Regions from separate parts of the Homo sapiens genome. Here region 2 is reported to be linked to region 1. Evidence: microRNA targets listed by miRTarBase, many of them from high-throughput screens and not tested one by one. Region 1 holds a microRNA gene; the other region holds the end of a gene's coding sequence.

Region 1 (5,383 bases):
AATAATTAAGAAAATCTTACAAAGAACACCAACTTATTGTTTGAAAATCAAAAATTTATTTCATTGGAAAAATACCATTTTTACTGTGAAGATTAATTTTATTTGTCAACGTGACTGCACCATAGTGCCCAGATATTTGGTCAGACATTATGCTAGATATTTTTGTGAAGGTGATTTTTGGAAGAGAATAACATCAAAATTGGTACCCTTTGAAATAAAACAGATTTCCCTCTATAATGTGGGTAGGCCTCACCTATAAGTTGAAATCCTTAATAGACAAAGACTGACCTTCCCCATGCTTGAAATAATTTTGCCAGAAGATTAGATTGCACTTGGACTTGAACTGCAAATCTGCCCTGAGCCTCCAGACAGCTGCCCCATCTCATCGGATTTTGGACTTGCCATGCTTCCACAATTATGTGAGCCAATTACTTATGATAAATCCCTCTCTCTATAGATAGAAGAAAGATAGATAGATGGATAGATAGATAGATAGTCTTTATTTCTCTCTCTATATATAAAGATGCATATATATAATCTGTCATGTATAGTCATATATATATTTCATATATATATATATATATGCATAATCCACTTCTAAAGAATGAAACATAACAGGACAAAATGCAGTCAAAATGAATACAATAGATATAGTCAATGATGATGCAAAAGCAATTTCCGAAGTCTGTATCACTGTCACTTAGTTGTACAAATGTGTCACTTAAGAAACTAAAGGTCAGAAGTTTTCAGAGTTCTGACAGTCTTGTGGTCATAGCATTGAAGTTAAATAAGACTTAAGCTCTAGCCTTATAAATAAAAAAAGGTAAAAAATAATATATATAATATATTATATATCATTAATATATAAATCTATAATATATTATATTTATTAATATATAATATAATATATTATATAATACATATTATTAATATATAAATGTATAATATGTATTATTAATATATAAATATATAATATAAATTATATAAATATATAAAATATATTTATATAATATAAATTATATAAATTTTTATATAATTTATATTATATAAATATATAAAATATATTTATATTAATATATTTTATATATTATATATTTTTTATATAATATTATATAAATATATAATATATATTTTTTATACAATATTATATAAAATATATAATATTTATATATTATATATTTTATATATTATATATTTTATATAATATACTATATATAATATATATTATTAATATATATACATATTTAATATATATATACACACAAAAATCTTGTTGGTTCTGTTCTCTAGAAAATTCTCACAGATAACATTCATTTAAACATATCTATTCTCATATAGTTCTCACAGAAATTAGGGAAGCTTGATATTACCTTGTCCATAACAGGAGACCTCAGGTTCACTTTGAACACATGTTCTACTCATAACTGCACTCAAGCATGAGTATCTAGTGAGATTGTGTTGCTACAAAAATAAAATAAAATAAAATAAAACAAAATAAAATAAATTAGCTGGGCATGGTGGCAGGCACTGTAGTCCCAGCTCCTCAGGAGACTGAAGTGGGATGATTGCTTGAACCCAGGAAATCAAGGCTGAAGTGAGCTATGATTGCACCACTGCACCCCAGCCAGGGCAACATATGTTTTTTGTCTCTTACCAAAAAACACAAAACCTACACTAAAAATTAATTCATTGTTTGTAAACCTGTATTTATCTTAAAAATAAAAAAAGCGGTAGTGAAATAAATATAAAGAAGTTGGGATTAAAATTAGGATACAAGGATATAGGTACATGATTATGAGATATGCTTATTAGTCCATTAGCACATCCCATTATATCTCCCGTAAACTAAAAATTATCTTAAGAAAAAATATTGTGACTTCCTTCTAAATTCATATATCAGCAGTTCTACATATTATCATTAAAAACATAAGCTTCGGCTCAAAGGAAATTTTACAGGTGCCCCCTTTCATAAAACAGAAAAATCAAAGAGCTCTAGGACAAATTAATTTCAGAAACCTGTCTTCTCAGACTCTTTTCCCACCTGTCCTCACACATCAGCAAAGTAGCACCCAACAAAAGCACAGGAAATCCCAGAGCTCTGTGGATTTTGCTTATGAACATACAGTCCTATGAAAAATAAGGTTACATATGTATCAGACAAGGAATGGTAATAATAAATACTGAAGAATTAAAGGCTAGGAAATAAGAATAACATGTTTGTATCATAGTTCAAATTAAATTAGAGTAGCAAGATATTTCTTAGGTAAAGCATTTCCAATCATATTTATACACATATATTTTAAGGTTAAAAGTATACATATTGATTCATTCTTTTGGTCATTTATATGTTGAAAAATAATATACTGATTTTCTTTTATCTAACAGAAGGGCTTAAAAATTAGTATGCTAATTTATTTAAAGTCACCCAACCTTATAGAGCATATGCATAATCCACTTCTAAGGAATGAAACATAACAGGACAAAATAAAGTCATAATGAATACAATAGATATATTCAATGATGATGCAAAAGTAATTTCAGAAGCCTGTACCACTGTCACTTAGGTGTCCAGATGTGTCACTTAAGAAATTAAAGGTCAGAAGTTTTCATAGTTCTGACAGTCTTATAGTCATACCATTGAACTTAAATAAGACCTACGCTCTAGCCTTGGAAATAAATAAAAAACGGTAAAACCAAAATGACTATTTGAAAGCTTAATCAGTTATTAAAATAGTTAATCATCAATTGTTTGATTTATGGTCAGGGATAATCCATTCTTGGTAATCCTGATGACAGAAATGACCACAAAGTTCCATTTATTTTAATAAGCAATTACTAGTCAACAATTAGGCTTTTGTGACCTTGTAAAGGTTACACAATCTTTTCTGTCATAGAATAGGACTATAGATACTGTTTCCAGAAGAGTAAATGAAAATGAATGCCCAGTGAATACCTAATTTTAATATATGCCATCAAAATGTACAATTTGGTATGTTAAGGTGATTTTTTTTGCCCACACCAATGTTTTTCTTGTTAAAATAAAATGTTGCTTTTTACAAAAGTACTGCATAACAATGATGTCTTCAAGCCCCTGATCATTTACCAAACTATTTAATTAATATATTAATTGGGCATAATAATCCAAATAAAATATGATATTTAAACTTCAAAATGGTATGCTTAGGATTTAAGGGGCTGATTCAATTAATGTTTCTGATGTATCATGTTTTTTTAACCAAGAAATATTACAAATTACTTTTCAAAAAAAGAACAGTAGAGACAGAGACAGCAACTATGTAAAACATGTATATTTAGGTAAAGTAACCATAATTTCTGGTGTGTTTGACACAGGTTTGATCACTGTTAACACTAAGCACCAAATAGAAGGATTCTAGAGTATATTTACCAGGGATCTCTTGACTTTGTGTGTCTTGTAATACAAAGTGGCTTGTTCTCAATGGCTCAGTAAAGGAATCTTAGGCTTCATGGTGTAGATCAACTGCAGAAGCACCTGTGAAGCACTATGAATTACTTTGTAAACCACCACCACATTAGCTTAGATATGGTGATTCACAAAGAAATCCACAGCACTTCACAGTTTGTGTAAAGCCTGGTACCTATGAACCAACAAAAACAGTACCCTTTGGCCACCAAAAGTTGAGGAAGTATTTCCATCTAGTTCACAATCAATTGAAGAATATGCTCAGTTTTGCACCACCCTCTTTTAGCTGAAACACACAAGAAACACTGAACATTTATTTTAAGTAAATAAAACTTAAAAATAAATGCATGCTTTCTATATTATATACCAGTAAATTTCATTTAAAAGAATTCCTAATACAATAACTAGCATGACATTATGCAGGATGAAAAAACAGGGTTCTGCTCATCAAAATAAAAGGGCATGGTTATTAATATAGATGTCAGGAGTAGGGAGTAGAATAAATAATAAAACTATATGTAATTCTCACATCCATATCACAGTATATAAGTGTTGCTGGGATAATTTGTTCTAAAGATATCCTCAGTTACTTAGCTTCCCACTTTATACTCATATAATCTCATATCCTATGACACAAGCTTACCAATGTTACAAATCTGCCCTTGTACCCCTGAACTTAAAATAAAAGTTCAAAGGCAATCATTAAATGAGTTTAACCTGAGTGTTTTTTCCTCTGATATTTGTCCAAGTAAGTATTTTTTCATATGACTGCTGAAGTCCAAGAATGTTTATAAAACTAAATTCTATATTATACATATTAGGTTCAACTCTGAAAGAAAACCACACCAATAAAAAATGAAAAACAAACAATAAAGTTACTCTCCTTTGCAAAATAACCAGAATCCCACCTTTTAACTTTTATCTAAAGAGCAAAAAGAAAGGTTTCATTTATAATTAATGAAAAGAATCTATAAATCTTCCCAGCCTAGTAAGCATAATATCAATCAAGTAATTCATGCTTTTGAAAATTTCAACATTTTTCAAAGTAACCATCAAATGTCAACATTAATTAAAAGTTTGCTTTATAGAAGCTCATGAACATAAGAGTCCTAGGCAGTTCACCACTGTCAGTGTAGGTCACTGCTCAGGAATACCCTACTCACCTCCACCAACCACACATATAACAACCAAGCCAAACTTGCTAAGTATCTGAATAATTAAAAATATTTAAATAAAAAATTTGTAGAAAATATGTATGTATGAAAAAAAAATATTTGTTTTGCGCTTATCATGTGCCAGGCATAGTCTTGGTTAGATGCTGGGGATATAAAAACTCCAGGTTTCAAGAAATACAAAGGAGAAAACAAGAATTTGAAAAAAGCAGTAATAGGTGTTATGAAAAGTTTCCATATAGGGCTAATGGAGACATGGAGAGGCCACTTAATTCAGTGCTAAGAGCGTTGATTACAGATGTCTTCTCTAAGGGAATACCATATATAAGAGAACTGAAAGAGTAGCAGGAATTAGCAATGAGAAGGGTGGGGTAAGTGTTCTAAGCAGAAGAGAACACATATACCACGGCCTATCCAAAGAAATAACGTGATTTTTATTTTATTTTTTGGTATACTATAGCTGAAAAGGAAAACTGCTGCTACAGTTAGAGTAGGTGAACACAAGTGAGCATCACCAGATCAGAGGCAGCAGGGACAGAAAAATTTGAAGTAAGAGAACTCCAGAATAATGAGGCAACCTGTCTGAAATATGGGCAGAGTAAAGGAGCAGTTATACAAAGGTCCTCCAGCTCTTCATCAAGTGTCACACTCAATCCCAAACTGGCCCAGGCAAAACCTCTTGAAGAATCAGGCCAGTTTCCCCAGTGAAATTCAGGCATACTAGTTGGGTGGAATACATTTAGAGTTTGACATGGGTTTAAAAACAAAT
Region 2 (5,336 bases), not on the chromosome of region 1:
CCCAGTCTCATTTTGCGGGCTTTTCTCTCTTTTCTTTCCTTCCCTGGCACCCAAGCCAAAGGCCCTGCCTCTGGCCTCCAGCCCTACCCCCTTCTGCGGTTGCACAGAAGGATGGCTGCCCAGCTCTTAAAAAAACTGCCCGGGAACTGTTGACATCTGTTCTCCCTCCCCCGCTGGCTTTTCTGATTGGCTTACAATCCTGAGGCTAGGACCGTCTCAGGAGCCAAGAGAGGAGAGCGGCCACAGGGAACCTAGGGTCTCACCAAGCTCTCCTTTCCTTCTGCAGGGACCTGCTCCGAATCGGAGTCACTCTGGCGGGACACCAGAAGAAAATCTTGGCCAGTGTCCAGCACATGAAGTCCCAGGCCAAGCCGGGAACCCCGGGTGGGACAGGAGGACCGGCCCCGCAGTACTGACCTGCAGGAACTCCCCACCCCAGGGACACCGCCTCCCCATTTTCCGGGGCAGAGTGGGGACTCACAGAGGCCCCCAGCCCTGTGCCCCGCTGGATTGCACTTTGAGCCCGTGGGGTGAGGAGTTGGCAATTTGGAGAGACAGGATTTGGGGGTTCTGCCATAATAGGAGGGGAAAATCACCCCCCAGCCACCTCGGGGAACTCCAGACCAAGGGTGAGGGCGCCTTTCCCTCAGGACTGGGTGTGACCAGAGGAAAAGGAAGTGCCCAACATCTCCCAGCCTCCCCAGGTGCCCCCCTCACCTTGATGGGTGCGTTCCCGCAGACCAAAGAGAGTGTGACTCCCTTGCCAGCTCCAGAGTGGGGGGGCTGTCCCAGGGGGCAAGAAGGGGTGTCAGGGCCCAGTGACAAAATCATTGGGGTTTGTAGTCCCAACTTGCTGCTGTCACCACCAAACTCAATCATTTTTTTCCCTTGTAAATGCCCCTCCCCCAGCTGCTGCCTTCATATTGAAGGTTTTTGAGTTTTGTTTTTGGTCTTAATTTTTCTCCCCGTTCCCTTTTTGTTTCTTCGTTTTGTTTTTCTACCGTCCTTGTCATAACTTTGTGTTGGAGGGAACCTGTTTCACTATGGCCTCCTTTGCCCAAGTTGAAACAGGGGCCCATCATCATGTCTGTTTCCAGAACAGTGCCTTGGTCATCCCACATCCCCGGACCCCGCCTGGGACCCCCAAGCTGTGTCCTATGAAGGGGTGTGGGGTGAGGTAGTGAAAAGGGCGGTAGTTGGTGGTGGAACCCAGAAACGGACGCCGGTGCTTGGAGGGGTTCTTAAATTATATTTAAAAAAGTAACTTTTTGTATAAATAAAAGAAAATGGGACGTGTCCCAGCTCCAGGGGTGATGGGGGTGATGGACTAGATTTCTAAGGAGAGTGGGGCTGGGTAGGGAGGGCTTTGTGGCTGACCGAGAGGTGTCAGAGGTCTGGAGGCTGCAGGGCTGTAGGGGCTGGAACTTGGTTATCAGCCCCAGGGTATGTTTGAGGTGGTGGGGTGGGGGCCGAGCGAGATGAATCATTCGCAGCTGCTTCTAACGTCTCCAGCTGGCTCTGCCAAGAGCCTGGGGCACCTCCGGGGTGGGGCTGTCCCCTCCCTCCCCTGTCCTGGTTCCTCAGTCCTGGCCAGAGGCTGCTGCAGGAGAGGGAGGGAAGGCCTTGAGCTCCCAGCCCTGCCCGACAGCCACTGGAGAGGGAGGCTGGGGCAGGAGCTGGAGCAGGGGGTTCCGTGGATGGACACAGATGGGGGCCAGATGTTGACAGCTGGGGTAGATTTAGAGGCAGTGCGGGGAGAGTGTCTGCATTGGCTGTGGGGGAAGGGAAGAAGGGACCCCCCCACGTGTGTACACAAGCGATAAGCGCGCGCCGAGGACAATTCTCCCATTCAAGATGCTGCCCGGGCAGGTTCTCCCTGCCTCTTGGAAAGGGGAGGGGGAACCTCCTGTCTTCCCCCAACTTACCCCTCCAAATGCCCCGCTTTCTTTCTTGCCATTTTCTGTGTCCTTTTCTCCAGGGATCTTTCTGGCCTCCCCCCGGGCACCTGCAGGGGCAGGTCTTGACAAGGACCAGCCTGGCTTAACCTGGTCCATTGCTTTTTCTTTTTCTTTTTCTTTTTTTTTTTTTTTTTTTTTTTTTTTTTGAGACAGGGCCTCACTCTGTCACTCAGGCTGGAGTGCAGTGGAATGATCATAGTTCACTGTAACCTTGAACTCCTGGGCGCAAGGGATCCTCCCATCTCAGCCTCCCGAGTGGCTGGGAATCCTCCAGGCACACACTACCACACCCAGCTGATTTTTTTTATTTTTTGTAGAGACGGGTTGGGGGGGGTCTCACAATGTTGCCCAGGCTGATCTCAAACTCCTGGCCTCAAGCTATCCTCCCCTCCCAGCCTCCCAAGGTACTAGGATTACAGGCGTGAGCCACCGCGCCCAACCTTTTTCCATTTCTGCACTTGAGTCGCCCCCTGTTGACGTGTTTGGGTCAGTGCTGGACCCCAAATCACAGCTGGGGCCCTTCCCGGTCCAGGGAGGCTTGTCTCAATTTCCCACCTCTACAGCCCTCTTCTGGAGTCCCTCAGGCTCTTCTCTGTCCCCTTTCCCTTGGTGACACATCACCCATGTTTTGTACCCCTGAGGAGGTGTGGGAGGGACTCGGGGGGTCCATCCAGAGGATGTTGCCCAGGCCCACCCTCTTCCCCTGCCAACCAGACATCCGGGCTAGATAAGGTGTCCTAGAGAGCTGTAGCTGGAGAAAGAAAGGTTAATGGGCATTGCAGAGGTGCAGCAGAGAGGCCAAGAGTGAAGACCCGGTGTGGGGAGCTGGGGTCAGGGCAGGGGGCTGCAGAAGCCCCCTGAGGTCCAGCCCCAAGAGCTCCAGGCTGCCCTGAGCCTTCCTGCCACATCCAGCTCCCCACCATGAATGCTCTTCCAGCTAGGGCAAGGGAGAGTCTCGCTGGGCAGGACCCTCCCTTCCCGGGTTTGGGTCTTGCTTCATTCCCATAAAGGTGACCTCAGGGCGTGTCATCCCAGAGGATAAGCGCAGAGTATAACACATTTCTAGAACTCAGTATCCTCCCTGGTTGGTTGGTTGGTTGGTTGTTTCTTTAGAGACAGGGTCTCGTTCTGTTGCCCAGGCTGGAGTGCAGTGGTGCAGTCATAGCTCACTGCAGCTTGGAACTCCTGGGTTCAAACAATCCTCCCGCCTCAGTCACCCAATAATTCTTTACATTTTTGTAGAGACAGGGACTCGCTATGTTGCTCAAGCTGGTCTCCAACTCCTGATCTCAAGCAATTCTCCCTCCTCAGCCTCCCAAAGCACTGGGATTACAGGCGTGAGCCACCACACCCAGCCTGTCCTCCGTTTTGACATCCCCAAACCCAAATCCCCTTTGGGGTCCTACATCCTGATCTTCCCCCAGCCCAATTGGCAGCCTTCCATTCCTTCCAGTGGCACGATCTCAGCTCACTGCAAGCTCTGTCTCCCGGGTTCACGCCATTCTCCTGCCTCAGCTTCCTGAGTAGCTGGGACTACAGGCGCCAGCTGCCACACCCGGCTAATTTTTTTTTGTATTTTTAGTAGAGATGGGGTTTCACCGTGTTAGCCAGCATGGTCTCGATCTCCTGACCTCGTGATCCGCCCGCCTCGGCCTCCCAAAGTGCTGGGATTACAGGTGTGAGCCACCGCACCCAGCAAGCCTTCCTTCTTAGAGCACAAGCAAGACGTCCCAGCCCCCACTTCCAAGCAAGGACCTGCCTGATGGGAGGCAGAGGTCCCGAGGGAGGGGGCGGGATGTTTGCACCTTGGCCTCAGGCTGGGGTGAGTGGGTCACTCCTAGTAGGATAGAGGTCAGAATTCTTCAGCAACCCAGACCCCAGACCCCGCCCTCAGTAACCCCTAGCCCCTTTTGGAAAATGGAGGAATACCGGGGGTGGGGGCCTCTCCAGAGGGTCACAGGCTGATTTGCTTTTTTTGGAAAAAGCCACTTTTTTTAGCCAGGACGTGGTGACATGCGCCTATAGTCCTGGCTACTTGAGAGGCTGAGGCTTGAGCCCAAGAATTCAAGCTCCCATCTCAGCCTCCTGAGTAGTTGGGAATCCTCCAGGCGCACGCCACCATGCCCAGCTGATGTTTTATTCTTTGTAGAGACAGGGGGCCTCATAATGTTGCCCAGGTTGATCTCAAACTCCTGGCCTCAAGCAGTCCTCCCCCTCAGCCTCCCAAGGCGCTGGGATTACACCACGCCCGACCTGCTTTTTCCACTTCTGCACCTCAGTCGCCCCCTGTTGTCGTGTTTGTGTCAGTGCTGGACCCCAAATCACAGCTTGGGCCCTTCCCAGCCCAGGGAGACTTGCCCTCAATTTCTCACCTCTACAGCCCTCTTCTGGGGTCCCTCGGGCTCTTGAGTCCTCTGTCCCCTCTTCCCTTGGTGACACATCACCCATGTTTTGTTCCCTCGAGGAGGTGTGGGAGGGACTTTGGGGGGTGAACTATGATTGCGCCACTGCACTCCAGCCTGGGTAACAGAGGAAGCACCTGTCTCTAAATAAGGAAGGGAGGGACAGAGGGGAGAGAGAAAGAAAGAAAACAGAGAGAGAGAGAGAGAGAGGGAGGGAGGGAGGGAGAAAGGAAGGAAGGAAGGAAGGAAGGAAGGAAGGAAGGAAAAACGAAGGAAGGAGAGAGTAAGAGGAAGAAAAGGAAGGGAAGGAGGGAGGAAAGGATGGAGGAAGGAAGGAAGGAGGGAAGGAAGGAAGGAAGGAAAGGCGGGCAGGCCACGTTTGGCTGGGTAAGGTGGTCACGTGTATTCCTTGTACTTTGGGAGGTGGAGGCAGGCTGAGCTCTTTGAGCCCAGGAGTTCAAGACCAGTTTAGGCAACATAGTGAGACCCTATCTCTTCTAAAAAATATCAAAATTAGCCAGGCGTAGTGGTGCATGCCTGTAGTCCCAGCTACTCAGGAGGCTGAGATGGGAGGATCGTTTGAGCCCCGGGGGTCAAGGCTGCAGTGAGCTATGACTGCACCACTACACTCTAGCCTGGGCAACAGAGTGAGACCTTGTCTCTAAAAAAAAAGAAAAAGAAAAAAAAGCCACATTCCCCAACCTTAGTCTGTACTTGACATGTAAAATTTCTCAGAATCACCTTGGTGGGGAGCCAGAGGCCACGTCCTCTAAGCACTCGGATTCCTGAGGTGAAGTCTTCTCCTAAATCAGAAGCCGAGGGTCTGGGGCTGCATCCCACCCTCCATTCCCCTGCCCGCCCTGTTCCTTCTGCCCTCCCTGCTCCTTCTGTCTCCCCTAGTGATGTCAGCCTCGCCGGGACTGAATGTGCCACCCGCATGTGGCTTTCTCTAAGGGACAACACCCTCACCTCAAAC

What was found. The annotated mature microRNA hsa-miR-876-3p reads UGGUGGUUUACAAAGUAAUUCA and lies in region 1 at 3,525-3,546, opposite strand. An mRNA with a match to its seed (bases 2 to 7 or 8) in the 3' UTR can be bound and repressed. Matches are read on the target gene's strand: a 7mer-m8 pairs with bases 2 to 8, a 7mer-A1 pairs with bases 2 to 7 and ends in A, and an 8mer does both.
Region 2: miRTarBase lists EPHB4 as a target of hsa-miR-876-3p. Seed matches in the 3' UTR shown: 7mer-A1 at 862-868.

What each region holds. Positions count from the first base shown.
Region 1 is chr9:28,860,112-28,865,494 of GRCh38, forward strand. MIR876 (microRNA 876) reads right to left here and starts at 3,595; the gene lies at 3,515-3,595. The region is part of intron 2 of LINGO2 (leucine rich repeat and Ig domain containing 2); the gene reads right to left.
Region 2 is chr7:100,798,541-100,803,876 of GRCh38, reverse strand. It overlaps EPHB4 (EPH receptor B4), which reads left to right. Exons shown (of 17, transcript NM_004444.5): 17 at 287-1,312. The coding sequence ends at 416. Among named protein-coding and RNA genes, the nearest start is that of EPHB4, 26 kb to the left of the region's middle. RefSeq lists enhancers at 1,005-1,707, 1,708-2,411, 4,355-4,414 and a silencer at 4,056-4,350.